4 linked regions of the Homo sapiens genome follow. The protein of the gene in region 2 purifies or fractionates together with the protein of the main gene of each other region. This does not show direct contact. Each region holds a gene or a part of one and is shown on either strand. Other genes may lie near its edges.

The links.
Region 1: the proteins of QPRT (region 2) and ARID1B purify together in Homo sapiens (affinity purification with mass spectrometry; 4 studies listed by BioGRID and IntAct, with this or other methods). This does not show direct contact.
Region 3: the proteins of QPRT (region 2) and TRAF3IP2 purify together in Homo sapiens (affinity purification with mass spectrometry; 4 studies listed by BioGRID and IntAct, with this or other methods). This does not show direct contact.
Region 4: the proteins of QPRT (region 2) and PIK3C2A purify together in Homo sapiens (affinity purification with mass spectrometry; 4 studies listed by BioGRID and IntAct, with this or other methods). This does not show direct contact.

What each region holds. Positions count from the first base shown.
Region 1 is NC_000006.12:157,179,367-157,186,387, forward strand, and holds part of ARID1B (AT-rich interactive domain-containing protein 1B), read left to right. Parts: intron 1-1,602; coding exon 1,603-1,812; intron 1,813-4,864; coding exon 4,865-5,069; intron 5,070-7,021. UniProt on the Homo sapiens protein: Involved in transcriptional activation and repression of select genes by chromatin remodeling (alteration of DNA-nucleosome topology).
Region 2 is NC_000016.10:29,674,561-29,682,179, forward strand, and holds the start of QPRT (nicotinate-nucleotide pyrophosphorylase [carboxylating]), read left to right. Parts: upstream 1-4,637; coding exon 4,638-4,650; intron 4,651-7,619. UniProt on the Homo sapiens protein: Involved in the catabolism of quinolinic acid (QA).
Region 3 is NC_000006.12:111,595,862-111,602,882, reverse strand, and holds part of TRAF3IP2 (E3 ubiquitin ligase TRAF3IP2), read left to right. Parts: intron 1-587; exon of another isoform or gene 588-1,668; coding exon of another isoform or gene 1,669-1,687; exon of another isoform or gene 1,688-5,045; intron 5,046-7,021. UniProt on the Homo sapiens protein: E3 ubiquitin ligase that catalyzes 'Lys-63'-linked polyubiquitination of target protein, enhancing protein-protein interaction and cell signaling. Transfers ubiquitin from E2 ubiquitin-conjugating enzyme UBE2V1-UBE2N to substrate protein.
Region 4 is NC_000011.10:17,204,977-17,212,844, reverse strand, and holds the start of PIK3C2A (phosphatidylinositol 4-phosphate 3-kinase C2 domain-containing subunit alpha), read left to right. Parts: upstream 1-4,858; 5' UTR 4,859-4,997; intron 4,998-7,868.

The sequences.
Region 1 (7,021 bases), on a different chromosome or scaffold from region 2:
CTAGTCAAGTAGGCCTTGGGTACAAGGATATGAAAAATAAGCTTTAAAAATTTATTTGGATATATAGTTTCTATATTCTAAGTGTACATATGGGTTTATAGACATATATATATTCACACATATATGAATATGTATACATATATATTTTTTAAGCTCTTATCTAAAGTGGTTTTTAAGTGATGTGAAGTTTAACCTCAGCATCAAAGTATATTCTAAAATATAAAACAACTATTTTTTATCATTCTACATTTTTTATTTACATCAACTGTATCACCCATTACATATTTGATAAAGAGGTTATGCCTCAGTAATTCTGAAGCTGAAGGCTTAAAATCTCAGCCCAGTGACTCTGGAGAATCACGTGTTAGTTAAAGGGAAAGCGGCGGCCTCACATGCTGCGTAAGTTTCATTCTCAGGCATCCTTTCTGAGGGACCTACTTTTACTGGAGATCATTCTGCTAAATAAGGTAACATCTAGCCTCAATGGCAGTCATGTTAGTTAACCCCCTAAACCTTCAAAAATATGTTTAAAATTATGTTAAGCTAAATAAAGAAAAAAGGAAAAAAAACTTAAGAATTCTGTCTGTAATAATTTCTCTATATTGCAAATAATAACCTAGGTATGCATAAATAAAGTAAATTATTGTTCCAAGAAATCTTTATTGAGAACTGAGAAAAGATTTTGTACAATAACCCTAGTATTGCAAATATTGTAAATATTTTTACAAATACAGAGATATAAATAAGAAAGGGAAGAGATACAGTTGGCCCGCCTAGGGCTAAAAGTGTTACCTGTCCAGATTATGTAATCCACGGAGTAGGCTTCAGGTGTTCAGAAACGGCAACTCTTGATATTTTAGTGTCAGGTAAAAGCAGGTACATAGAAACCCAAGAACTAGAGTATCAATATAAAACACATGAGCATATAAATACATGGGCATAAAAATAAATGTATATGTTTATCCATAAATCCCAAAGCTTTGGTTGACCCTTAGTTTATCTAAAAAAAAAAAACAAAAAAAAACAAAAAACACACGAGCTTATAGCCCACACCACTGGTTCCCGTGACTGGAAATCTACCTTATATTTTTCAGCAAGCACCGTGTGGTTGCTCATCCTCCAGATGCTGTAGCATTTTAACGAAGACACCCTTTAGCCATTCTTGTTTTGACAAGGAAAAGTAGGAGTCCATTTAATGTTTTGGGCTCTATAATATCACATGTAAAAATTTTAATTCACTATGATCATTCCATGAGCTAGAACCCTTTTATTTTTAAAAATAACATGAGGTGTCACTGGAATTTTGCCTTCTGGGATTCAACGCTTATATCCAAAAAGGGCTTTGTTCTTTTTTGTTTTTGTTTTTAAGTGTATAAAAGGGGGAGTTTGGGCCTTTTATTTAAAGTAAAAGTAAATTCCTAACTAAGAAAATGTATAGTTTGTGCCTGAACTAGTAGCCTTCATTCCTAATTGTTGTGTGATAGCAGTAGTTTTTAATCTCTTCTCTTCTTGTATTTGTTAGCTCATTACTTTTTTCTCACCTTCTTCCCTCTCCCTCTGCCCACCCATGCCCCACCTCCACATGCTGCTTCTGGGTACTAGAAGTCCAGCTCCTCCACCACTACTGGGGAGAAGATCACGAAGGTGTACGAGCTGGGGAATGAGCCAGAGAGAAAGCTCTGGGTCGACCGATACCTCACCTTCATGGAAGAGAGAGGCTCTCCTGTCTCAAGTCTGCCTGCCGTGGGCAAGAAGCCCCTGGACCTGTTCCGACTCTACGTCTGCGTCAAAGAGATCGGGGGTTTGGCCCAGGTAAGAATGAGTGAGGGAGGGGGTGAAAAAGGAAGCATTGTGGATAAGTTCTTACAGTGGCTTTCTTTGAATGTGTGGACTCATTTTTTTTCTCACAAAGGAAAAGCTAAGCCTGTGTGAAAGTCGCCTTCTTGCAACCCACGTCTGTGTGCTGTCAGGGAGCACTGGGGGACCCTGGCTCTGCCACCAACTCGCAGCGTGACCTCAGCAGGTCATGTTCTTGGACCTCAGTTTCGTCATGTATACAGCGGGCCAGACTAGATTTTCCTGTAGGTTTTCTTACAGCTCCAGAATTCTCTGGAATCTGCCAGTAGTTCATAGTAAATACTCAGAAATGTTTTACAAATGACTGAATTAATTATCTGTGTCAGATATAAGTCACATTTACTGCTTCCCTCTATCCAGAACAGGTTAGCAGGAAAATTAAGTGATACTTGTCAAACCATGCCCACAATAACTGGACAGTTAGGAGGGCCATTGCTGTGACCTCCAGCGGGCTAGGCCTGAGGTGTGACAGGGGAGCTGCCTGGGGTGCAGATTTAAGGAGCTATCCACTGTGTGCTTGCTTGACTCTCAGAGTGAGTGCGTCCTGAAGTCTCATACCCCAGGCACCGGCTTTCCTCACTGTAGCCCTCGCTCCTTAATCAGGAGTCTAGTTGTAGGACCACGCCCTGTCATAGGAACAGGGAAAAGGTACTCACTGTGTAACCTTTGTCTTTCTAAATACATGAGTCACCAGCCCCAAAGCATAGATGAGAAAACTCCTGTGTAACAAAATCAAGTACAGGATGGGGTGCAGTGGCTTACACCTGTAATCCCAGCACTTTGGGAAGCCAAGGCAGGAGGATCACTTGAGGCCAGGAGTTGCAGACTAGCCTGGGGACCCCAGTAAGACTTTGTCTCCATTAAAAACTACAAAACTTAGCCGGGCGTGGTGATGCACACCTACAGTCCCAGCTGTTCAGGAGGCTGAGGTGGGAGGATCACTTGAGCCCAGGAGTTCAAGGTTACAGTAAGCTTTGATCACACTACTATACTCCAGCCTGGTTGACAGAGCAAGACCCTGTCTCAATAAAAAATAATATATTTTTTAAAAAATAGAATAATGCTGTAGCCCAGGGACACTCACAGGGTAGTTGGTGGGGCCAGGTCTGTCTGACTCCAGACACATACTCTTCCCATTTGCCACTGGTTCTGGAGTCCAGCTATGCATTAGAATGGCCTGGGCAGCTTTTCAAAGCTGTCAGTACCTGGGCTACCACCCGACATCAATGAAATGAAACCTTCTGTGCCCAAGGTAATCTAACAGGCAGTCAGAATCAGGCGCCCTGCGCCCCACCAAGGTGGCGGGGGTCACTAACTATCCAAGGGCAAGTCATCTGCCCTGCAGGTGTCACTGACGGCCTACCGTGGTCTCAGTGCTGCGTCTCGGGGGAGAAAGGGGAGGCCTTCTTTGTGCTTAGCCTTCCCACTAGGTGCCTAATCCATTCCATGGGGGAACTGAGACCTGTGACAGAAAGAATTAGAGCTTGCCCATGACGCTGCATAACCAGCTGCTAAGTCGTGTGATACCACGTGTGAGTGATGGTCAGCAAAGAGAATGATTGAGACACGCCTCTCTCTGACCTGGACTCCCTGACCTTTCCCCTCTGCACCTGGGCTCCTTTGCCTTCTGCCCCTGGACTCCCCTGACCTTTCTCCCCTGCACCTAGCCTCTTCTGACATGGATTTTTTAGAATCACCAAGACTGCTCAAACGATTAGATTTTATCAGCCAGCACAGAGTAGATAGTGTCTGGCTACTTCCTTACTGTGACTGTGTCCACAGTATATATAACCAGGCTGGGTCTGTCATGAGACTCTCCGCGGGCTTATAATGAGGGTTGCTGGAATGTAGCTGGGTTGCATCTTTGTCCCCACCCCATCATGCTGTGTACCTTGTGGGCATCAGATGTGGTTGGGAGCAGGTGCTGCCACCACACAAAGCTCAGCTCCCAGCCTTCCTTCTTAGGTCACACTGAGCAGCGCCCAGCTTGCCATTTCTGAAGTAACCTGAAGACCCACAGTTTGCAGCCCTGCATTCAGTGCCAAAAGAGGGCGGTGGGCATCTCCGGGAGCATCCACAATTTATTATACACCACCGAGTACTAAGTAAATGGACAGAAGAGCCGTGTGAGAAAGTTTGAACCCAGAAATTTAATATTTCATTAAAAACCACTGTCCCCTTACCTCCTCCCTTGCCACACAACGCAGGAGACATCAAAAGGCAAAACCTTCCCCAAGTTATTTGCAAATCCTCATGTTTCATCCATGTGTTTAACCGTTTAACCTTTCATAACCTGTTCCCAAGTGGGAATCAAAAGGTTAAAATAATGCCTCGGATCTTGACGTCACATTTCAGGAGTTCTCTTTCTTTCTCCTCCTTTTGCGACTGTGTTGTCTCCAGCCCTTTAAGCCTCCTTGAGTAAGAGCACCGCACAGGAAGGTGTGCACCTGCCCCGTCAGCAGGGCTGGTGGCCAGTGGCATCGCATCATGCTTTTTAAGTTGGGGGCCGTTGGTCCAGGGGCTCATTTGCCTTTGCACGAGGTGCTGCTTTTGCTTTTGCCTGACACCCCAAGCAGTCTTGGGGTGAGGGGATGGGTACGGCCCAGAATCACAGGCCCACTTCTGAGGGCTTGCAGCTGCTGGAATGAGCACTTTCACATCAGTGCCCAAAAACCTAACTTGGAAAATAGTGCCGTTGTTGCTTTTTAAATGTTTTGAGATGCCCTTTTTCCTTAATTGGAGGTGCAGTGGGATGAGCGTGAGGCGTTGGGAGATGTGGCGGGCAGAAGGACCTCCGAGCAGTGCTTTTTCTGTTGCCATCAGCAGGTTCCCTAATGGTTTTATAACTGTAAATGCTGCCTATGCACTGCTGAGTGGGAGTAATGAGCATTAGTTAAAAGAGGCAAATGAAGAAAAGTCAACCAAGACATTAAGTGCTTTTTTTGTCTCCTGGCTTTAAACAAGCCACTTTGTTGCAAACCAATGATCCTGCCGTGTTTTTCACTAGGTTAATAAAAACAAGAAGTGGCGTGAGCTGGCAACCAACCTAAACGTTGGCACCTCAAGCAGTGCAGCGAGCTCCCTGAAAAAGCAGTATATTCAGTACCTGTTTGCCTTTGAGTGCAAGATCGAACGTGGGGAGGAGCCCCCGCCGGAAGTCTTCAGCACCGGGGACACCAAAAAGCAGCCCAAGCTCCAGCCGCCATCTCCTGGTAAGTGGCGGCGCTGCAGTCACTGGCCCAGGAAAGCCCAGGCGCCTGGCCTGGGAGGTTCCGGGAAGGTGGTTTCACAGTCAGGCCAACAGGGAACTTGGGACTTTTGAGAGGTGGGGGGTTCCTGTGTCGTTTTGTTTATTTAATTGGACGCCCACTGGCAGTGTTAAGGGATGAGAGAATTAAATCTGGGATATGGCCATTTCTGGTTGACACTTGGAAGGCACCCCTTCTTTTGCTTTACCTTAATCAAAACAGGCTTTCGAATTCTAAGCCATATACGTTTATTGCTTATACAAGTATTCAAAAAGATTCCATCTACCTCTACACAAAATAAAGATCCCCCAGTGGCCAGTTTGAATACATGTGCACTTCTAGGAAATGCCACCCTACAGGTTCGACAGCTCGAGCTCCCCCGCCCTCTTTCGGAAATCCTCAGATTTGAACTTTAGTAAAATGAAGCCTGGGCTTCGTTTCTAATGTCCCCTACCCAGCAAGTTCTCACTTCTAGGGAATTTAACAAGCTGTCGTGGTAAGGATCCACACGGCCTTGTTTTGGAAACAGGTGGTCTTTTGCAGCCTTGTTCTGGAAGTCAGGGGTCTTAGGAATGGGTGCAGCGCTGGCCACCAACACGCTCGCAGGCCGAGCCACATCAGTGACGCCTGCTGGCTCCCTTCCCTCTCCTCCCCACTGACAGAGACCCTCCCATTCCTTTCAGCTCCCCTGCCAGCCTTCGTTCTACCGTTTGGCTTTCAGATTTGAAATGACAAAATCATATATTCTGATAAATGCAATAGTAGAGAGGGGAAGAAATTGGCACCTTAGTGCTGGGTGGTGACCTTACTCCAGTAGATCCGACCATTCTCTTATCTGTGTCTGCCTCGCAGTCAGCGACCTTCAGCACATTAGCCTCACTGTTCCTGGTCCCTGTCTATGAGATGTGGCTGCACCCACCGCTCCTGTACACAGCTTGTTCTGAGCGTGGCTGGCAGCCCATGTTTCCTGAGCACTTCCAGTGTGCTGGGCCCTTTTCTAAGTGCTATCATTTCATTTTCACATCAGCCCTGTGACATTGATACTATTTTAAAATCCATGAGAAAATGAAGGTCTCGTGGAATCTAAGTACTTGCCCAAAGCCAACTAGCTGGGGAGTAGAAGGTCTTATCTGGGGCATCTGGTGCTACAGTATACACGATACCCACCAGACACCTCTGGCTGTATTGAAAATACCTTTGTAATATGTGAAATGTTTACACATAGAAGCCAGAGAAAGAGGTCATTTCATTTTTAATGATTTCCTCTAGCTGCTGTCTGGATGGCAAAGCTGATATCCAAGGTTGCTAATCAAGGGATCTCACATAAATACGTTTTAGGCCCAAAGTGCACTTGTAGTGAATATACCTAGAATTACATCTGTAGGCTCTAAAAACAAGTAGAAATCCTCGCTAACCTCATCCTTAAAGATTCAAAGGCTTTACCAACTCAGGTGTCCCTTAAAAACTGGGAAATCTAATTTTAAAAATCTCACAACATTACATCCAGTTCACAGAGTAAAACAAGCTGCCTGTGAACAGCTCTGAAACTATTTTTCCAAAATAAAAACCCAGTGGGGCGTAGGGACCAAAGTGGTGATGTCTGTAAAGATCTAAGGGTACATTTTATTTGCCAGGAAAGAACTCGTGTCACTGAATGGGCTGCACTTGTGTATGGAGAATAGCTCTCCCAGTGTGCATCAGCTTCAGGACGGGGGCCCTGCTGAGGCGTATAGATCCTTCAGAAAGTGGAGGGCCTGTTCTCTTAACAGCCAGCCGTTCCCTTTTCCCCTTTTTTAAACTGTCATTTTTATGGCAACATTATCATTTTAACTACACAAAAGAGCTTGGATTGCAAATGGACTCCTGGTATACATTCTTCTCAGTAGTCCAGATGGAGCCGAGGGCCTGTGACACAG
Region 2 (7,619 bases):
AGGCCACATGTCCTCTTTGTGTTTCCAGAGCCCAGGGCCCAGCATGCGGTAGCTACCTAGTATATGTTTACTGAATGGAGGGATGAATAAATTCATGCACAAAGAATAGTTTTATTTATTTATTTATTTTTGAGACAGAGTCTTGCTTCTGACACCCAGGCTGTAGCGCAGTGGTGCGATCTTGGCTCATTGCAACCTCTGCCTCCCAGGTTCAAGCAATTCTCCTGTCTCAGCCTCCCAAGTAGCTGGGATTACAGGCATGCGCGCCACCACGCCCGGCTAATTTTCTATTTTTAGTAGAGACGAGGTTTCAACATGTTGGCCAGGCTGGTCTCGAACTCGCGACCTCAGGTGATCTGCCTGCCTTGGTCTTCCAAAGTGCTGGGATTACAGGTATGAGCCACCGCGCCTGGCCTTATTTGTTTATTTTCATAAACAAATTTCTGTTGCCCAGGCTGGTCTCAAACTCCTGGCCTCAAGTGATCCTCCTGCCTCAGCCTCCCAAACTGTTGGGATTACAGGCACAAGCCACAGTGCCTGGCCCAGTTCTGTCCTTTGAGTTGACCTGGTCATCCAGGAGGATGTTCTGAGGAAGTGTGAAATGATAATATTATTCTAGCCCACGCTGGATACAGTGGCAGTCTGGAAGGTGAAAGAGGTTGGGTTTGAAATAGATTTATTGGCCAAGTGCAGTGGCTCACACCTGTAATCCCAGCACTTTGGGAGGCCGAGGCAGGAGAATTGCTTCAGCCTTTAAACATGGCGAAACCCTGTCCCTATTAAAAATAAAAAAGTTCGATGGGCGTGGTGGCATTCACCTGTAGTCCCAGCTACTCAGGAGGGTGAGGCAGGAGAATCACTTCAGCCCTATAGGTTGAGGCTGCTTTGTGCTGTGATCATGCCAATGCACGCTAGCCTGGGTGACACAGTGAGACCCTGTTTCAAAAACAAAAACAAAAACAGAATAGAGGCCTGGAGCTTGAGAGGGAACTCAGGATAGAAGATATAGATTTAAGAGTCGGCTGGATGCAGTGGCTCAAGGCTGTAATCCCAGCACTTTGGGAGGCTAGGGTGGGTGTATCACTTGAGGTCAGGAGTTCGAGACCAGCCTGAACAACATGGCGAAACCCCATCTCTACCAAAAATAACAAAAACTAGCTGGGCATGGTGGCATGCGCCTGTAATCCCAGCTACTTGGGAGGCTAAGGCAGGAGAATCACTTGAACCCGGGAGGTGGAGGTTGCAGTTAGCCGAGATTGTACCACTGGATTCCAGCCTGGGTGACAGAGTGAGACTCCCTCTCAAAAAATAAAAATAAAAATAAATAAATAAATAAATAAATAAATAGTGATACAGATAGATAGATACATAAATTATATCATTCACTGGGTAGATTGAGAAGAGAGCTGTAGAGAGAATCTGAGTGTAATAGTCAGGGCAGGCTAACTGCTGTAAGAAACAGTGCCCCCACATCTCAGCGGTATAACTCAAAAGAAGTTTTTTCCTTCTTATGACAGTCAATTCCTGACATCTGGAGCATGACCTTTCACAACATTATTCCGGGACCCAGTCTCCTTCCATCTAGTGGCTCTGTCATCCTCCTAGGGCCTTGGAGTGGTCTGCTTTTGACCAGCTAATGGGAGGGGAGAGGCAGAATAGGATCCTGTGAAGACTTCTAGGGTCAGGTCTGGAAATATCTTTTGCTCACACTCCATTGGCCAGAACAAGACTGCCTCAGTGCAGAGGAAGCTGGGAAATGTAGTTTAGTAGGGTACCCAGAAGGAAAAGGGAAACAGTCTCTGCCACACTGAAGCAACACCAAAATCTGAGGGTTGGATGTAGGAAGAAGCACCTGCAAAAGATAGAAAAGAGCCTTTAAGAGGATCACCTGAAGCCAGGAGTTTGAGACCAGCCTGGGCAGCATAGCAAGATCCTATCTGTACAAAAAATAAAAATAAAAAATTAGCCTAGGGTGGAGGCATGCACATACAGTCCCAGCAACTCAGGAGGCTTGGGGCCAGGAGTTTGAGGCTGCAGTGAGCTTTGATTGGGCCACTGCACTCCACTTAAGCCTGAGTGACAGAGCAAAACCCTGTATCCAAAAAAAAAAAAATTAACCAGGAGAAAAATGACATTTGGAGATCCTGTCTCTAAAGAAAAAAAAAGCTCACTGCATAGCTCACTGCAGCCTCAGAAACAGGCCCAGGACTGAATCAAGGCCAGCAAGGTGCTGGGGTGATAAGCGAGCCCGACTCCAGCCTGGCCAACACGGTGAAACCCCTTCTCTACTAAAAATACACAAATTAGCTGGGCATGGTGGCAGACGCCTGTGGTTCCAGCTACTCAGGAGGCTGAGGTAGGAGGATCACTTGAGCCTGGGGCGTGGAGGTTGTAGTGGGCCAAGATTGTGCCACTGCACTCCAGCCTGGGTGACAGAGCAAGACCCTGTCTCAAAAAAAAAAAAAAAAAAAAAAGTGAGCTGGAGGATGAGGCCTCCCTAAATTTTGTGCCTTGGGTGTCTCGATCCGTCACGCCAGCCCCAGTCCCGGCAGTCAGGTGCGGCAGAGAAAGCAAAGGGAGAAGGCTGGGAAGATGCAAGTGAATTTAGCGACTAGCAGTCCCTGTGAGCAACTGTAGCAAGAAGGGTTTCCAATGAAGAAAGGAAGGCCCTGGGCCAGGCGCGGTGGCTCATGCCTGTAATCCCAGCTCTTTGGGAGGCAGAGGCGGGTGGATCACCTGAGGTCGGGAGCTCAAGACTAGCCTGACCAACATAGAGAAACCCCGTCTCTACTGAAAAAAAATACAAAATTAGCCGGGTGTGGTGGCGCATGCCTGTAATCCCAGCTATTCGGGAGGCTGAGGCAGGAGAATCGCTTGACCCCGGGAAGCGGAGGTTGCAGTGAGTCGAGATCACGCCATTGCGCTCCAGCCTCGGCAACAAGAGCGAAACTCCATCAAAAAAAAAAAAAAAAGGAAGAAAGAAAGGCCCTGGCAGTTCTTGGACAGGAACTTGCCTGAAGTCCCAGTCCCGGTGACTGGTGGTTTCCCCACTTTCTGGTTCAGAAGCTGGGCTCTAAGCTGTCTGTGCCCTTAAAGTTCCTTGGAAAGAGGGAAGGGAAGGGAAGTGGATATTAGGTGAGTTCCTACTCTGTTTCATTTGCAGAGTTTTCTCATTGATTCTCAGTTGGACCCATGAGGTAGATGTTATGCCATTACATTTTTTTTTTCTTTAGAGACAGGGTCTCTCTCTGTCACTCAGGCTGGACTGCAGTGGCACGATCACGGCTCACTGCAGCTTTGAACTCCTGGGCTCAAGTGATCCTCCCATCTCAGCCTACAGGTGTGCACCACTGTACTTAGCTAATTTCTTTTTCTTTTTTCTTTTTTTGGGAGAGATGGGATCTCTGTATGTCTCTATGATGCCCACACTGGTCTCAAACTCCTGGCCTCAAGCGATTCTCCTGCCTTGGCCTCCCAAAGCACAGGGATTACAGGCATGAGTCGCTGTGCCCAGCCTGTTATGCCGGGTTTTTTTGTTTTGTTTTGTTTTTTGAGACAGAGTCTCGCTCTGTCGCCCAGGAGTACAGTGGCATGATCTTGGCTCACTGCAAGCTCCACCTCCCGGGTTCACACCATTCTCCTGCCTCAGCCTCCCGAGTAGCTGGGACTACAGGCGCCCACCACCACACCCGGCTAATTTTTTGGTTTTTTAGTAGAGACGGGGTTTCACCATGTTAGCTGGGATGGTCTCGATCTCCTGACCTCGTGATCTGCCTGCCTCAGCCTCCCAAAGTGCTGGGATTACAGTCGTGAACCACTGCATCCGGCCTGTTATGCCGTTTTTTAAATTAATTAATAAATTTATTTATTTATCTTGAGACAGAGTCTCACTCTGTCACCCAGGCTGGAGTGCAGTGGCATGATCTCGACTCACTGCAACCTCCACCTCCGGGGTTCAAGTGAGTCTCATGCCTCAGCCTCCTGAGCAGCTGGGATTACAGGCGGCCGCCACCATGCCCGGCTAATTTTTGTATTTTTAGTAGAGATGGGGTTTCGCCATGTTGGCCAGGCTGGTCTCAAACTCCTGACCTCAGGTGATCAACCTGCCTCTGCCTCCCAAAGTGCTGGGATTACAGGCGTGAGCTCCTGTGCCCGGCCCTGTTATGCCATTTTAAAGCTAAGGAAACTGAGGCACAGAAAAAGGTAAAAAGGTACTTGAGATCAAAAAGGATGGAGTTAGGATTTGAACCCAGGTCCAGGGCCCATGATTTTCCCAGCACACCATCCAAAATGCCTGCCTGCCCTCACCAGGGAGCACATGCTTACATTCACAGCCTTGGACCCTGGGTTAGGGCCAGGAGGGCTGGGTGTTGGGTGAGAACAGGGCCTCGGGCTCCTTCACTGGCTGGGGCAGGGCTTCTGAGTTCCCCATCAGAGCCCCTCCTCTGACTTTCAGGGCCTGCTGAGGAATCTGCAGGCCTGGCAGAGGACAGGAGGGAGGCTTGGGGAGCCTGGGAAGGGCCGGCTGACAGCTTGATGGGCCCTCCCTCCCTCCACAGTCCCACCCCCAGCCTGGGGCCTCTGGGAGCCTTGGTCCTGAGCAGCCAACACACCAGCCCAGACAGCTGCAAGTCACCATGGACGCTGAAGGTAAAGGGACACTCTCTCTGCCATGTCCCTGCACCCATCCCCCCACTGCCTACCCCTGCCCCCACCCTGGCTTGTCTCAGCCCCTTGTTGCCTCCTCTGGAGTCATCTCTCCTCTGGTCCCGCCATCGACTCCCTTACCTACCCCATGTCCCTGCAGCCTTGCTCAACCCCCAGAGGCCCCTTCTCACTCTTCTTTCTCCTGTGTTGAGTCCCCAAGGAGCTCTGGGGAAGGAAGGGGCTTAAGCCCTAGAAAAGGGCAGGGTGGCCTGGAGGAGGTGGCGTCTCCTGGGGGCAGTGGGGGCCGGAAGTGGGAGGCTGGTTGGGGGAGCAGCATGGACTTCTGCTCTCGCTGGTAGCTCGGGAGAAGCAGAGACAAAGTCCTGTCCCTTCTGCAGCTGGGTGGGGGAGGGGGCTTGAGTCCCGTGATTCCCTGCCTGGAGGGAGCTGTATGCAAACTGTTGGGGTGATCAGTCCCAACCCCCAACCATGAAGTCCGGTGGCAACAAAGGAATGAGAAAAGACAAGTTAAGATTTAAAGCAGCCCCAGGGGGCCAGTTGCTAAAGTGAAGGCTGCAGAGCCCTGGTTGCCTGATAATTTATTGAGTACAATCTTTTGATCTAAGAAGCAGATGGTACGGGGTGAAACGGTGAAGGTGGGGGTGTGCGCGTCATTTGAAAGATGTATAGCCGTGGTGGTTTATGTGAATTTCCTTTAAGCTCAAAGCATATGTCTAACTACTAAGATAATCTTTTTTTTTTTTTTTTTTGAGACGGAGTCTCGCTTTCCCCCAGGCTGGAGTGCAGTGGCGTGATCTCGGCTCACTGCAAGCTCCGCCTCCCGGGTTCATGCCATTCTCCTGCCTCAGCCTCCCGAGTAGCTGGGACTACAGGCGCCCGCCGCCACGCCTGGCTAATTTTTTGTATTTTTAGTAGAGACGGGGTTTCACCATGTTAGCCAGGATGGTCTCATTTCCCAACCTCGTGATCCGCCCGTCTCTGCCTCCCAAAGTGCTGGGATTACAGGTGTTAGCCACCGTGCCCGGCCAACTAAGATAATCTTTAACTTATTGGGCTGCAGCTGGTGGGAGTGGGTTTTACAAGGAGCCAGGATGTCTGGTCACATTCCAACGCTTCAAGGAAGTGTTTCAGCCCAGAGCATTCTGTGTAAAGCCGCAGAGCAGGTCATGTTCACTGGCCTGGGGACACAATGGCAATAAGGAGGTGATTCTCCTCAGAGGCCCCCTATGGTGTTCCATAGGTGTCCTACACAGGGGTGGCTGACTAAACTGGCGCCCCGTAAACCCTTCCACCAGCACAAACCCAGGGGTCCATGCTCTACGCTCAGAAGGCTCCACCAGGGATGGGGCTGTGTGACCATGGGTGGGTCCTGGCTTCTCAGAGTCCCGTTTTCTTCCATCTGTAAAATGACAATAATAGTTCCCTGCTCTGGCCCGCCACGGTGGCTCACGCCTGTAATCCCAGCACTTTGGGAGGCTGAGGTGGGTGGAGCACTTGAGGTCAGGTGTTTGAGACCAGCCTGGCCAACATGGTGAAACCCCGTCTCTACTAAAAGTACAAAAATTAGCCGAGTGTGGTGGTGCGCACCTGTAATCCCAGCTACATGGGAGGCTGAGGCAGGAGAATTGCTTGAACCCCAGTGGCGGAGGTTGCAGTGAGCTGAGACCAGGCCTCAGCACTCCAGCCTGGGCGACAGAGCGAGACTCCATCTCAAAAAAAAAGGAAAATAAATAGTTCCCTGCTCAGAAGGTTGTGGGGAGGACAGAGGATGGGAGGCACAGGTGCTTAGACCCTCCTCCATGTTTGAGGTGCCTGCTGGCCCCATACACCCGGTCCCTCTGGCTCCACTGTGGAACCAGCTCTCAGGGGTCCCATGCAGGATGCCACGCCAAACACCTTTCAATCTCCATTGTGTCTTTCTCTTTTGAAACAACGCCGACCTGGATGTGAATCCTGACTGCCACTCAGCAGCAGTGGAAACCCTGGCAAGTTTTGTAACCTGTAGAAGCCCGTTTCCACATCTGGACAATGGAGTTGGTGGCACTGGTCTCACGGGGTTGTAATGAAGATTAAATACCTTAGCAGATGTCAAGGGGTCTCGACCTGATTCCTTCAGAGCCAGGATTCTTTACTGAGGGATCAGGGATGGGCTCTGGGGGAGTTCATGAACCCCAGAATTTGCAGGTGAAATTGTGTGTCTTTGTGAGAACACGGTTACGCATTTTTCTGGGAAGGAGATCCATAATTTTCATCAGATCCAGATTCTTTTTTTTTTTTTTTTTTTTTGAGACAGAGTCTCGCCCTGTTGTCCAGGCTGGAGTGCAGTGGCATGATCTTGGCTCGCTGCAACCTCTGCCTCCCGGGTTCAAGCGATTCTCCTGCCTCAGCCTCACGAGTAGCTGGGACTACAGGCATAAACCACCATGCCCGGCTAATTTTTGTATTTTTAGTAGAGATGGGGTGTCACCATGTTGGCCAGGCTAGCAGATCCAGATTCTTTTTTTTTTTTTTTCGAGATGGAGTCTGACTCTGTCACCAGGCTGGAGTGCAGTGGCAGGATCTCGGCTCACTGCAACCTTCACCTCCCAGGTTCAAGTGATTATCTTGCCTCAGCCTCACGAGTAGCTGGGACTACACGTGCTTCAGGCACTTGCTGCCATGTCCAGCTAATTTTGTAGTTTTAGTAGAGACAGGGTTTCACCATGTTGGCCAGGATGGTCTCGATCTCTTGACCTTGTGATCTGCCTCCTCGGCCTCCCAAAGTGCTGGGATTACAGGTGTGAGCCACCGCACCCGGCCTCTTTTGTTTTTTAGACGGGGTCTTGTTCTGTCACCCAGGCTGGTTGGTGTGCAGTAACATAATCATAGCTCACTGTTTGTAGCCTCCAACTTCTGGGCTCAAGTGGTCCTCCTGCCTCAGCCTGTGGAGTAGCTGGGACTGCAGGCGTGTG
Region 3 (7,021 bases), on a different chromosome or scaffold from region 2:
GGCCGCACCCCACAGACTGAGGCTGCCTGGGGTCTTGGCAGCTCCCTCAGCAATGAGGGATACTTGCTCTCCGCTGCCTCATTGTTTCCCTGCAGTCAGGATGCCAGTGTTTTTTCCCTTTCCCCTTCCCAGAGTCAACAGGTCTCCCTCCCCGCTCTGAACTCTCTTCCTACTCTGAGCTGTCTGTCCAAACTCTTCCTGGCCTCCCAGCTTACCCTATGACACTCTTACCTTTCACCTATATTCATTCTTTCCCTTCTCTTCCAACTGCCCCTTCTCATACCCAGCACTACATACAAATTACAAGTAAATAAGTGTCTCTCCTACACCAATAAAAGGCAAATACAAAAAAATCCTTCAGCGTTTCCCCACTTTCCTTACTTCTCTTCCGTTCTCCTTCCTTCCTTTCTCTCCCTTCCTCTTCCTCTCTTGGTTTTTCCTTTCTACCCCTTCCTCTCCTTCACTCCGTGGCTGTGGCTGAATTAGGGATCACACATGTGCTTAGAGAAACCATCTTATCTGAAGAAACAAAAAAACAAAAACCAAAACAATGACAACGACAGAAAAAAAAAAAAAACATGGGCTGGTTTGAGGTTGTTCTCTAAATGTTTATTATAACTTCTAATGTGATGGAGTCAGTGTGTTCCCATTAGTCCTTCTCCTCCTCATTTAGTAGCTCAGAGGAGTCCCAGAGCAAACTTCCTCAAATCAGGTCGGTTCATACTGCACTGCCTTCAGCCTGATGTGAGTCTTACTGTGCTGGGTTTATGTCCAAGGGCCAGTAAATATTCCCTTCCTTCCAGGGCTCACCACTGTTTCAAATCCTCTGGCAAGCCCAGTGGAAGAACTTCTCTGTATGGGAAATTCAGCAAGTAAACTTGGAAGTATTTGTTCATTGGAGTTTGAATCTGAGCCAAACAGTTCACTCAAAACCAACCTTCCACTCAGCAAACCAGTGTTATGAAAGTTTGCATGCATTTGGGCAGGAAACAAAGGACATTAATGAGTTTAAAGATTTTTTTTTAAATCCATGACTTTTGGACATTTATTAAAAAGATTACTCTCTGGGGAATGAAGTAAGGCCTTGGGAATCTTGTAATTGAAAGTTTCTGATCCGAAGTAGATCTCAGGATCCTCCCAGCTGTAAATTTATAGATTTCTTTTTAATGTCCACCTGAAATATTCATGCTGTGTGTCTCTAGGACGCTTCAAACCTATTCCTGACTCAAAGAAAGCTTAAGAAAAAATCCAAGCAGTTGTGATCACCAAGGCCTGATTATGGAGGAGCTGTTAATATGGTTTATTAATTACTCAGGCTGCTCACTCCTGTCCTTCCTCTGTTCCTTGCTGTGCTATTTGTCTTCTTCTGGGGACATAACACCTTCATTAAATCCCATCCGTCCTTGCCTTAGAGTTGTCCCCTGGAAGATAGCTCCCCTCTAGATGCATCACCATTTATCATCACCCTTTGTTGGTGCTCTGTCAACCAGTTTTCAATTTATTTTGAATTCAGTTAATGATTAAAATTTAATGAGATCCAGTCAAATGCTTTTCTCAAATCAAGATGCCTCTGCAGCCTCATCTGTATCCTCTTGTGATGGCGTGAAGGAAAGCCATGGCAGATTTCCAGCCTGGTGATGCTGTACAGAACACAGGTGGCCTGCTTCCATGCCTCCTCAGCTTCAAGGTGAATGGCTCTGAAGCATATTTATTACAGAATCTCCTAGGGGTTATGTGGCTTCCCCATCCCCTTTCTTCCCTCCCAATAGCTGAACCAGTCAGTGCTCCCAACCGAGATGCAAGCGGTTAAGTGCACAGGATCTGGTGCCAAACCGCTTATATTTGAATCACAGCTCTGCTACTTAATAGCCATGTGACCTCGGAAAAGTTACTTACCTTCTCTATGCCTTGCTTTTCCTGTCTGTAAAATGAGTCTGACAATAGTACTTAGGAAATTAGAGTGGGTGTGAGGATTAAGTAAGTTAATATATCTATCACACTTGGAACAGCATTTCCCACGTAGTCACCATTCAATAAATATTAACAATGATTGCTAACAAAGAGTAAAGTTCCTTAAGTATGTCAGTTTCATTAGGTTTGTATTTTGGCTTATCAGTGTACAATCTATATCAACAGTAAACTACAACCCTAGAGCCAATGGTTACCATGACCTGTTTTTAGCACCAGCCTGTTGCTCAGAATGGTTTTTATATGTTTAAAGGGTGTCTTTTCTTAAAAAAAATAAAAATAAAAAAGGAGCAGAATATGAAACAGACACAGCATGTGGCCCATAAGGCTTAAACTATTTACTATCTGTCCCCTTTGCAGAAAAAGTTTGCCAACCCGTGATTTATATGGTTTAATGGAAAGAGCTTGGAGATCTAAAGGCTTGATTTGGCTTCACCCATCACTTGTTAAGTGACTATGGAAAAGCTTCTCAATGTGTCTAAGCCTCTGTAAAACAGGAATGGCAAAGTGGTAACACGTACCCTGCTTATGGCCTAGGCTTGTTTTAAGGACCAAACGAGATGATGTGTATCAAATGTGCCGGAAATGACTCATATATACACGTTTGTTAAAAAGATATGGTCTCTATACATTAGCTTCATAGAATAGTATTAGCACCTGGGTGTAAAACCAGGGAATACTGTTTTTAAAAAGAGAGCTCTGAAGCCAGATAATAACTGCAGTTGTCGTTGCGGTAAAAATAACAAAATGGCCATTGCTTTTTAAGAGCTTGATATGTGCCAGGCTCTACATTCAACACTTTATTTACATCTACTCTTTATCCTCACCACACCCCTATGGAGAAGTGTTGCTATTTTCCCTATTTTGCAGATGAGAAAAGTGAGGCCCAGAGACGTTAGGTAACTTTGTCAAGATCACAAATCTAATCATGCAGCTAGCCGGCACAGGGAGAATTTAACCCTAGGGAGTCTGAACCCAGAGCCTGTGCATTTAAGTATTGCATATGTTCCCACATCCTAGGAATATGTGTTGATTTAGGGTAAGCCCATCTGGAAGGCAGAAGCCACTGTTCACTGTGGATGTGGGCATGAAGTCTGTTCATGTGTGCCCTGGGAGAGACTTGCTTCCCACACAGGCCACGGTGGACTCTAACGGACCTGAAGAAAGGGAGGCAGGCATGATGGGAGGAAAAGCTTTTTGGTGAACTCTGAGATCAGAAAGGTAGCGCTGTGAAGACTAATAGGCTCTGTTTCAAAAAACTAGTAAGTTAAGGAAGATTGTGCTAAAAGAGGAAAAGATTGCTGGGAACAGACATGAGCAAACAGTTGGAGGCAGCTCAAGGGGCTTGACTGAGAGCTGTGTACAGAAAAAAAAATTAAAAAAGAGAGAGGGTGAAGCATGGGAAAATCTGTCACTGGGACACCAAGGGAGCATTGTCACATGGACAGCAAGGGAGCATTGTCACATGGACATCAGGGCTGCTGACATCTGGATGTGACATTATTCGCAAAACTAGGCAGCTCGGGGCAGAGTAGAGAAGCCCAGAGAAAGGTATCAGGCCCGAGGAGGCAAAAAGGAAGACAAAGCAAGGGACCTGGAGAGAGAAACTGACATATTTGAGGGAAGATGCCCATCAGATCCAAGAGCTAGAACCACAGCTCACAGTCCAAACGGTGATGAGAGTCCAGAGATTAAAAGCTACTGTCAGGCTGGGTGCAGTGGCTCATGCCTGTAATCTCAGCACTTTGGAAGGACGAGGCAGAAGGATTGCCTGAGCCCAGGAGTTCGAGACCAGCCTAGGCAACATGGCGAGACTCTGTCGCTACAAAAAAAAAAAAAAAAAAAAAATTAACCAGGTGTGGTGGTGCATGCCTGTGGTCCCAACAATATGGGAGGCTAAGGTGGGAGGAAGACCTGATCCCAGGAGGGCAAGGTAGTTGTATGTCCCTGGGAATCACCTCTGTACCCAGCTCATGCCCACCCATGCTTACCCCAGGCACATGTTCTCACCCTCTGCTGAAAGGTTTTTGATATTTGAAGAGATATGTTCACTGTCTCCTGGGCGGTGTCATGAGTTCCTCATTCGCATTGGTTCTTAATCTTTGTGAGCATCAGAATCACTAGTGGAGCCTTTCCTTTTCATTTTTTATCTTTTAAGTCAAAATAGATGCACTTGTTACAAAACTTAAATAGTATAAAATGTTCTGAAAAGCAAACCTCTTTCCTACCCCATTCCTAGCCATCCAATTCCCTTCCCAGAGGCAACCACTGTTCCTCATTTGAGATGGCAGATATACGACCTTATATCATACAAATGATGGCATACCCTACACACTGTGCTACTCTTGAATTTTTTTAACTTAATAAATCTTAGAGATAGTTCCATTTCAGTTCACACAGCCCTTCCTCATTCTTAAAGGATGTGGAGTGCTCATTGTACAGATATACTACAGTTTTAAAAATCAGAACCTTTAGACATGTGGGTTGTGTCTGGTCTTCGCTATTATAAACACTGCGGCGTTGCCTGTCTTCGTAGCCTCTTCATTTCATACAAGATATACATATCTCTGCAGGGGAAATTCTTAGAAGTGAAATTACTAGGTCAAAGGGCATAAGCTTTTAAAATTCTGATAGTTATTGCCAAATTGCACAGATCACATTTCCCTTGGCAAAGTATGAGAGAACCTGTTTACCTGTGAGACTTAAACAAAAATACACTAGTATTTTACATACAATAAACAAAAATACTCAGAGGCCCTGGGTGTGGGGCCTGGGCTCTGTATTGGGAGCCTCAGAGAGGGGTTCTGAGCCAGGAACTCTCCTGGGCTTCTTCGCCCTCCAGCCCCGCTCTCCCCCCAGGATTTGCTGATGAGCCTGAGATGACCCAGGGCACTGCCAGCATGGGGGCTCCCAGGGTCCTAGTTGGCAGGTCTCCTGTTCCCCTGAGGAGTCAGTGCTTGCTCCCTGGGTCATGGCTGGAAAACAGGGCTTTTCCACTTCAATCCAGGCACCGCCCTCTGGTAGAGACTGGAGCAAAGGTCATGCCAGAGTTACAAGCACGTAAATATGGAGAAAGCCTGGAAAAAAAAAGGAAAAACAGAAAAATGGGTCGGGTCAGAACAAGCAAGAACCAGGCTCACATGCACAGCTGTTCCATCCAGTTATATGTCCCCAGGACTCACCTCTGTCCCCAGTTCATGCCCACTCGTGCTTACCCAGGGTACATGCTCTCACCCTCTGCTGAATGGTTTTCTTTGTATTTTAAAAATACAATGGTGAGATACTGAGTGATTGCTTTTTAATGTTTAGTATTTTTACACTATGGACATTAAAGACAAAACAGATAAAACTGCCATCCTTGACATAACCCATTAATCTGTCTGTGGCCCCCTGATGTGGCATTTGTAATTGTTCTCTATGACTGCCTCAGGAGAGTTGGCAGGGTTGCCCACTTTCTGCCAGTTCAGACAGGGGTCTGGGGCTGGAGGGGGCCTGTGTGGTAGTGGCAGGCGTGCCCCACCCTTTTCAGTTCTAGGTGGAGCTCTGCAGAGGCACAAAGACCAGCAACTCCCTGCCTGGAATCTAAGAGCAGATGCTCCCATTACACTGGCTGATGGCATCACCTTTATTCTGCAAGTAAGGGTTGTGGTCAATCCTGCCCATGGGCAGGACCTTTGGGCATGGCCCAGACCTAACTTGGGTGCTTGACACATAGTGGGCACTTAATAAATGTTCTGGAGAGGAAAAAAAAAGAAGAGGGAAGGGTCACCCACGTGGCATAATTTTAAGAACTCTGAGGACCAGGCCCACCAGATACTCCTTGCTACCCAACATTGTTGTTGACAACATTCTCATTGTCACTGATCCGGCTACATGGACCTGTCTGTCCCCTCTCTGAAATAGGCATCAACTATTTATTCATTCAGTGAATCTTTATTGAGCACCTACTATGTGCCAGGTGCAGTTCTAGGTGTTGAGAATATAGCTGTAAACAGAACAGTCAAAAATCATGCCCCCAGGCCAGGCGTGGTGGCTCACTTATAATCCCAGCACTTTGGGAGGCTGAGGTGGGAGGACTGCTTGAGGTAAAGAGTTCAATACCAGTTTGGGTAGCATAGTGAGACCTCATCTCTACAAAAAAATTTTAAAAGTCAGGCACACCGACTGGCGCAGTGGCTCACACCTGTAATCCCAGCACTTTGGGAGGCCGAAGCGGGCGGATCACCTGAGGTCAGGAGTTTGAGACCAGTCTGGCCAACGTGGTGAAACTCTGTCTCTACTAAAAATACAAAAATTAGCCAGACGCAGTGGCGCACACCTGTAATCACAGCTACTCGGGAGGCTGAGGCATGAGAATCGCTTGAACCCGGGAGGCAGAGGTTGCAGTGAGCCGAGATTGTGCCACTGCACTCCAACCTGGGTGACAGAGCAAGACTCCGTCTCAGAAAAAACAGAAAAATTAGGCATGATGGCGTGCGCCTGTAGTCCTAGCTACTTGGGAGACTGAGGTGGGAGGATCACTTGAGCCCAGGAGTTTGAGGCTGCAGTGAACCATGATCTAGGTACTGCTCTCCAGCCTGGGTGACAGAGCAAGACCCCCGTATCACAAAGAAAAAGAAAAGAGAAAATTGCACCCTTAGGAAGTTTATATTCTGGGAGAAGGGAGAGGCAATGAGCAAATAAGAGATTATTAGATATTTGTGTATATCATATACATTTGGGTAATATATAAGACAGTAATAACTGCTGGATAAGAAGGTAAAGCAGGGAAGGGAGATGGGAATGAGAGGAGAGTGTAAACATTTTAGGGAGTGCGACCAGGGAGACCTCCCTGAGGTGACAGCCAAGGAAAGACCTGAAGGAGAAAGGAAGCCAGCCATGCAGCTGTGTGGGGGAAGGGTGTTCCATGAAGAGGGAGCGACAAGCACGAAGGCCCTGGGACGCCGGTCGTGGGTTTTCTGCATGTTACTTAGTTTCCTCTCTTAGGCTGGATCACAGCAACTTGAAGGTAGGAAGAATGTTTTCTGTGTCTTCAGAAATTACTGTGATTATC
Region 4 (7,868 bases), on a different chromosome or scaffold from region 2:
TGTGGACTGAATTTATTGACTCACTTCTAATAAATAGAGTATGGCAGAAGTGATAAGACCATTTCTGAGATTAGGTTACAAAAAGACTGTGGCTTCTTTCCATGGGTGCTTTCTCTCACATACTCTTGGTTCTCTTGCTCTCTTTCTTGGTCACTCACGTTGCGGAACGTCAGTGGCCATGTTGTGAGGAAGCCCTGGGGAGAGGGCTGCCTATGTAGGGAGAGATCAAGGCCTTCTAACAACCACATGAGTGAACTTGGAAGTGGATCTCCCCCCATTCAAGCCCTCAGATGGGATTGGCAGCTGACAGCTTGACTGCAATCTTGTGGGAGATCTTAAATCAGAAACACTCACCTATGCCATGCCAACATGCCTGTCCCACAGAAACTGTGATCTAGTAAATGTTTATCATTTTTACTTTAAGCTGCTAAATGCTGGGGTAATTTGATATGCAGCAATAGATAACTAATACATTTTCCATCTTCCCTCTATCTTTTCTCCGAGCTTCCAGAGTTATTTGGGTTTACCTCTAGTAGTGCTCATAGCACAATATACTATTTTTATTTCTAAGTTGCTCTCCCCTACTGGACTGTCTCCAAGGCCAGGAACCCTAGCTCAGTCAACTTCACATTTATTGTGTCTTTTTTTTTTTTAGATGGAGTTTCGCTCTTTTTGCCTAGGCTGGAGTGCAATGGCACGATCTTGGCTCACTGCAACTTCCACCTCCTGGGTTCAAGTGATTCTCCTGCCTCAGTCTCCTAAGTTGCTGGGATTACAGGCACGCACCACCATGACTGGCTAATTTTGTATTTTTAGTAGAGATGGGGTTTCACCATGTTGGCCAGGCTGGTCTTGAACTCCTGACCTCAGGTGATCCACCCGCTTCGGCCTCCCAAAGTGTTAGGATTACAGGCGTGAGCCACACACTTATTGTGTCTTATCCAAGGTTCAAGCCACCATCATCACTTCCCTACACAGTTGCAATAAACTCCAGACTGGGCTACCCAAATCCCCTAGACCCTTCTAATTCTTTCTCCTCCTAGCTTTATGAAATCTTTCAAAAATGCAACTCTGATCACTTGAAGGCTTAAAATCTTTCTCTTCATTCTTAAGATAAAGACCTAAATTCTTAATACAGCCTCCCAGGCCTGGCATTATCTTCCTGTCTCACTATAGTACCTAACATGCTTCTGGCCAGGCACAGTGGCTTACACCTATAATCCTAGCACTTTGGGAGGCTAGGTGGGAGGATTGCTTGAGGCCAGGAGTTTGGGACTAGCCTGGGCTACATAGTGACACCCCGTGTCTAGAAAAAAATTTTTTTTTGAATAAAGATACTTCCTTCTTCTTCTCAGTATAACAACAACACTGGCCTCTCAGTTCCTCAGCTGAGCCATGCTCCTTTCTCAGAGCCTTTGCACACACTGTTCCCTCTGCTGGGTATGCTTTCCCCCATCCTCAATTTCTATTTATCCTTTGGATCTCAGCTCAGTGTCACTTTTTCAGGGAAGGCCTTCCTGCCTTCTATTCTAAATCAAAGAACACTGTAGTTTTCCTTCAAACTGCTTACATAATCAGGATTAAATAATTGGGCCCGGTGGCTCATGCCTGTAATCCCAGCACTTTGGGAAGTTGAGATGGGAGGATCGCTTGAGGCCAAGAGTTCCAGACCAGCCTGGTCAATATGGTGAAACTCTGTCTCTACTAAAAGTGCAAAAAATTAGCCAGGTGTGGTGGTGTGCACCTGTAATCCCAGCTACTCTGGAGGTTTGAACCCAGGAGATGGAGGTTGTAGTGAGCAGAGATTGCGCCACTGCACTCTAGCCTAGGCAACAGAGTGAGAGTCTGTCTCAAAAAAACATAAATAAATAAATAAATAGGTAGGTAGTTTGGTATAGTACCCAGCAGAGTCCTTCTACTCAGGTGGGGATATAACATTGAGAAAGGAAATAAAAACCTAACTATTATACTTCTTAACAGCATTTCGTAGATGTTAAAATCTTGGCCCGCTGGCGGAACTGTGAGGTTAAAAAAGCATGGGTTGTGCAGTCAGACCCAGTTTTGGATCCCAGCTCTGCTCTTTAGTAGCTGTGTGACATTGGGCAAGTTACTCTCCTCTCTGTTCCTCAAATTTCTCAGCTATAAAATTAGGATATAATAATTATATCTTTCAGGAAGGTTGTTGGAGGAAGTCAATGAGATAATACTCATAAAACACTAAGAACAGGGCTTGGCCTTAGCAAATGCTAATCATTGTTATCCACTATATTTTATCTGTGGTTAAAAAAAAAAGATTGCCCATTTCTCATGTGGTACTGGAAGAAGCTGGGGAATATTTGTGGTACTGGGAAGTTGTCTGTGGGAAGTTAGGATTGAAACAGTGAAAAATGTAAGGCCTCTGCCTGTAATCCCAGCACTTTGGGAGGCCTAGGCAGGCAGATCACTTGAGGTCGGGAGTTCGAGACCAGCCTGACCAACACGGAGAAACTCTGTCTCTACTAAAAATACAAAAATTAGCTGGGTGTGGTGGCACATGACTGTAATCCCAGCTACTCAGGAGGCTGAGGCAGAAGAATCCCTTGAACCAAGAGAGGCGGAGGTTGTGGTGAGCCGAGAGCACACCATTGCACTCCAGCCTGGGCAACAAGTATGAGACTCTGTCTCAAAAAAAAAAAAAAAAAAAGTGAAGCCAGTGGAAGAAAGGAAACAGGAGAAATGGTTGCCAGCTATGTTCTAGTTGGTTCCAAATGACAGCAGCACCAGTTTGTACTGTCTCCCAGAAGTCTGTGTTCCTACTGTTTACACATGCATCTTCACAAGCCATTGCTGACAGATGAGATATGCTGAGAGAGGGTTACCTGTTCAGATTCTTGACACCTGGCAACTTGTGAAAGCTAATTTTTTTGGAATCTGGAAAACTATCAAACTCCTTTTCTTTCTCTTCACCTTATTGGGAACCTTTTGGTTGATCAGAGCCTACCATGTATCAGTCATTCAAAAGCTATAATAAAATAATGAATTCAGAACTGCAACAAGGAAGTGACTCAAGGACCAGGGCCCTCTGCTGCTGAGACTCAGGGGAAATACGTTTCATTAAAAAAAAAAATTAGAAGAAAAAATCCAGTCTGTCTCGCTGGATCAAAAAAAAAGAAAGGAAGAAAGAGAGAGAGGGAGAGAGGAATAAAGAAAGAGAAAGAAAAAGAAAGAAAGAAAAAGAAAGAAAGAAAGAAAGAAAGAAAGAAAGAAAGAAAACAAAAGAAAAAAAAAAGACAGACAAATAGTTACTCTTTCCTGAAGACTCAGTGTTCTCCCAAGGCCTCTTCCTTCTTTCCTGAAGGCACACTCAGATCTGGAGCAGAAGCTAGGAAGCTACCCTGAGATAAATCACTTTCCCCACCCTTTTTAATCTTGTGAAAGAGCTGCTGCCAATTTTAGAAATTCCTCCTTTGATCAGAAGATAAAGCAGAACAATGCTGCGGAACTAAGTTGATTTCTAAGGGACATTCTTCTAGAGTGTGTAGCCTGCCTGGAAGTGTGTGTGCATAGAGGAGGGGCGGGGTTGGGGGAAAGATAGGAGTTGGAAGGGGGGGGGGTGTACAACAGCCAGTAGCTACAGCCGTAAGAAATAATCACATTTGTTTCTAGAATTCCCCATAGAATAGAAACTCCATCCAATTTTACCATCCCTGCGGAGGTGCAGGCATGTTTATTACAGCGCTATGAGGGATTCATCCACTCCACATTCCCCATTGCCCTAGCCCCCTTTCGCCAACCCCCGTCCCTGCCAAATCAGGCCAATTTCTTTCTTTCCAGTTATTTGCTGAAAGTTCAACTTCTCTTAGAGCCTTCTAATTATGCGTATATCATATAGGCTGATAATTTTTAGTTTAGGCTGAGAAATGCAGCCTAAATCAGTCTGCCACATCAGATTGTGAACGTCTGGATGGTGTGGACCCCCTTCTCCTACTGCTTAAAAGACAATCTTGTTGTAAAACGCTATGGAATCGTTCCTCTCCCCTTAACATCTTTGTGCCCCAGAAGCCCCATCTGTAAATGGGGATAATTTTCCTATATCTTCCCATGGTTACGTAATTTTTAGATCTAACACGTGAGGACCAAACGCTTTACAAGCATAATCTCATTAAATTCTCAATAAGAATATATTATTATGGAGGTTGCATGTGAAAATACTTTGTAATGTAGAAAGAGCCGTCTGGCTGTGAGTTATTATCAGGGGGTTATCTTCCTTACCTGGCTGTTGTGAGGATGAAACGAGACGCCGACCTGAAAGCGTTTTACGTGCTATCAAGCATTTTACAGAAACCACGTGATAGGCTACTAATTACCCACCGTATACCACCTGACCCACCGTGAGGCCTCGGTAAATACTGGTTGGAGTGGACGAGTTTAAGTCTTGCCTGTTCCTTTCAGTCTTCCAATCACAAAGTAATCTCGGCGCCGCCAGGGGCCAAGACACAAATCTGGGAACCTCAGCCTAGATGGAGGAGGGTGCGGGGTCCCGGGAGAGGGGATGAGAACAATAGGGTACTTCAGTGCCCGGGCCCTGTTTAGCGGGTCTTCGGACTCAGGGCCCGAGGGGCGGCCAGCTGGGGTGTCCGGAGAGCTCCCCTCCCCAGGTCTGGGGTGTGCACGGAGAGGCGTCCAGAGCCTGCTCAGCATTCCTCGGGAGAGAGCCAGACCCTGGTCCCCCGGGCCCGTGCGCCCCAGCGCCCCAGCTCCCTTGCTCACGCCACCCCGGCAGCGTCCAAGCCCCGCCCGCCAGCTCAGGTAGGCCGTCCGCGCCAGCCAATTCGCAACAAGTCCGGGCGGGGAAGGCGGTGCTTCCCTGTCCGGAAGTGACGTGCTGCGCTTGGCTGGCTGTGGAGTCGGCCGAAGCTTTCGGCGGCGGCTGAGCCAGCTGAGGGGAAAAATGGCTCGGACTGTGGCGGCTTCGGCGGCTCAGGTTGTGGTAGAGGCGGAGGCTCAGGCAGCTTGAGGTGAGGAGCGGTCGGTGCGGCTGGGGACGATATTCGGGGTCCTGCTCTGCAAGGGTGGAGAGGGGCCCCGGGGTTCCCGGGCTGGAAGGGTCTCTTGTCGCGGCCCCCAGTGCCTTGGGTGCCCGCGTCTGACCCTCCATCCCGTGCTCTTGGCGTTGCCCAGCCCGACTCCCCCCTCCCTCCGGGCCTTGCTTCCACCCAGGCCGTGAGCAAGTGCTGCGCTGGAGGTGCGAGGAGCCCGCGTCCCCACCAGGCCCCTCTTCTCGGGAGCGGAGGTGCGCCAGGGAGTTAGTTTTGTCCCACAGAAGGAGGGCAGGCCCCCCGGCCGCCGGCCCCCCTCCCCCGCCTTGTCCCGCGGGACCGGGCTGGAGCCGCAGTGGCCGGTCCTATTTTCTTGGCAGATTGTTAGTTCTGGCGAGTGTGTGTGTTGTACTTCTCAGTGACGGCCCCTTCTTTCACCTCCTGTCCCATCTCTGGCTCTGGGGGCCAAGGATACTTTTTCTTCTTCCCGGACCCCCCACTCCCACCGCGTTGCCTTTAGCCGCGAATCCACTTGCTTTGGGAACACTATTCTTTCAGTGTGTATTTAGCGCATCATCCTTCTGAGAGAGCGGTCAGATTAAAAAATACTAGCTTAACTCTTCCTGAGTGACGGAGGAATCATAAATAATTGAAGAAAAAGGCACATACTTATTTTCCTCACTGAATTTCTGGCTTTAAAAACGACATTCTCTAGCTGTGGAATTATTTTTTGGGGGAGGAGGGATTGAGGAGGGAAATGAGGAAGGAGAAACTAAGGAAAAAAGTCTGGACATAACGTGGAAGAGAGAGCCTGTTGTAGTTCTTTTCCTATACTGGCCCGATAGAAATTGAGGTTATAATTATATTCTTATTTTGAACAGTGGGGGTTTGAATTAAGTGAAACGAAGGAGGCCTGCCTCTTTGAACAAGATTAGTTATTAAAGAATGTCCTGAAATCTTTCCTGGTGGGTTTCAGGCAGAAAAGCTCTGTTGGGAAAATTTTTAAATCTATTGTAGCATCAAAGGCCACAGCATATAAGAGATGCAAGAAGAAGAAAGCTGTTTGTAGGGGAACGGTGAAGACATAGTAGAAAGAGGGAAGGCTGCACAGAAGTCCAGGAACTAATTCCAGGAGAGACTTTGTACCTTTGCCTCCTTGGCTTGTGGTTCAAGTCTCCACAAGAGACTCCTTTAGCAGCTCTGCCATAGTTGGGGTTGGTGCTCTTTTTTTTTTTTTTAATTGACATGGGGTCTCACTGTGTCGCCCAGGCTGGTCTACCATGCCCAGCAGAATGGTGCTTTTTTTTTTTTTAAATTTGATCTAACCTTATCTGGACAGGATGGTGCTCTTATTCACAGCAGCAAATTAGACGAAAGGACCCTAGTTGAAGTATACAGATTTTATTTTTATATAAGATATTTGTTTAGTATCAAGACAGTGGTTACATACTGAAAAACAATGTAACTGGGAATAGAGAGATTTTATTTGTTAACTCAGATTTAGTTCAAAAGTGATTTTACGTAGGTAGAAAGCACATATGGAGTTTCTTCCATAAATTCCGTAATTTTGGCTGAATTAATACATTCTAAAGTAGGTTTTTTCTTATCAAAGTGTCTTGCTATTTGTGTTTTATATGCGTGTTTCCTGCAGTTTTCTTTGCAAATAACATGTTTTAATGTTTTCATCACAGGTTTTACAATTTTTTTCTGTTTGAATCTCGCTCTGTCGCCTAGGCTGGAGTGCAGTGGCACGAGAGCTCACTGCAACCTCCACCTCCAGGGTTCAAGTGATTCTCCTGCCTCAGCCTCCTGAGTAGCTGGAATTACAGGCACGCGCCACCACACATGGCTCATTTTTGTGTTTTTTCAATAGAGACTGGTTTACACTATGTTGACCAGGCTAGTCTCGAACTCCTGACCTCAAGTGATCTGCCCGTCTTGGCCTCCCAAAGTGCTGGGATTAAAGACTTGAGCCACTGCACCTGGCAGTTTTTTCTGTTTTATAGAATACAAAAGCTGGCATGTTTGCATTGAGGAATTTTAGAAACTAACTTTTTGTAATGAATAACTGTATACTAAGTTTGTTTCTTCTGCAATTAATAGTTCTAAAATTTTCAATTAATTGAAGATTGCTTGCATTAATTCCCATGTCCAGGACTCTTTCTGTAGCACAAAGTTTTGCATTTAAGTAAGCACATTCAATAAGTGAACTTATACCTAAAGAGTGTTGAATTTCCTGAGAACTCAGAGTTCTTATAGAGCATCAGAGCAGCAGTAGTGCAAAGCATTTTTTGTAACTTGTTTTTCTTTGATAACATGAATTATTCTTTTTTTTTTTTTTTTTTTTTTTTTTGAGATGGAGTCTCACTCTGTTGACGAGGCTGGAGTGCAGTGGCACGATCTTGGCTCACTGCAACCTCCACCTGCCGGGTTCAAGTGACTCTCCTGCCTCAGCCTCCCGAGGAGCTGGGACTACAGGCGTGTGCCGCTATGCCCAGCTAATTTTTGTATTTTTAGTAGAGACGGGGTTTCACCATGTTGGTTGGCCAGGATGGTCTTGAGCTCTTGGCCTTGTGATCTGCCCACCTCGGCCTCCCAAAGTGCTGGGATTACAGGCTTGAGCTACCCTGCCCGGCTCTTTTTTTCTTTTTTGAGACAGTCTCACTCCGTCACCCAGGCTGGAGTGCAGTGGCGTGATCTCAGCTCACTGAAACTTTTGCCTTCTGGGTTCAAGCAATCCTCCTGCCTCAGCCTCCCAAGTAGCTGGGATTACAGGTGCACACCACCACACCCACCTAAGTTTTGTATTTTGGTAGAGACGGGGTTTCACCATGTTGGTCAAGCTGGTCT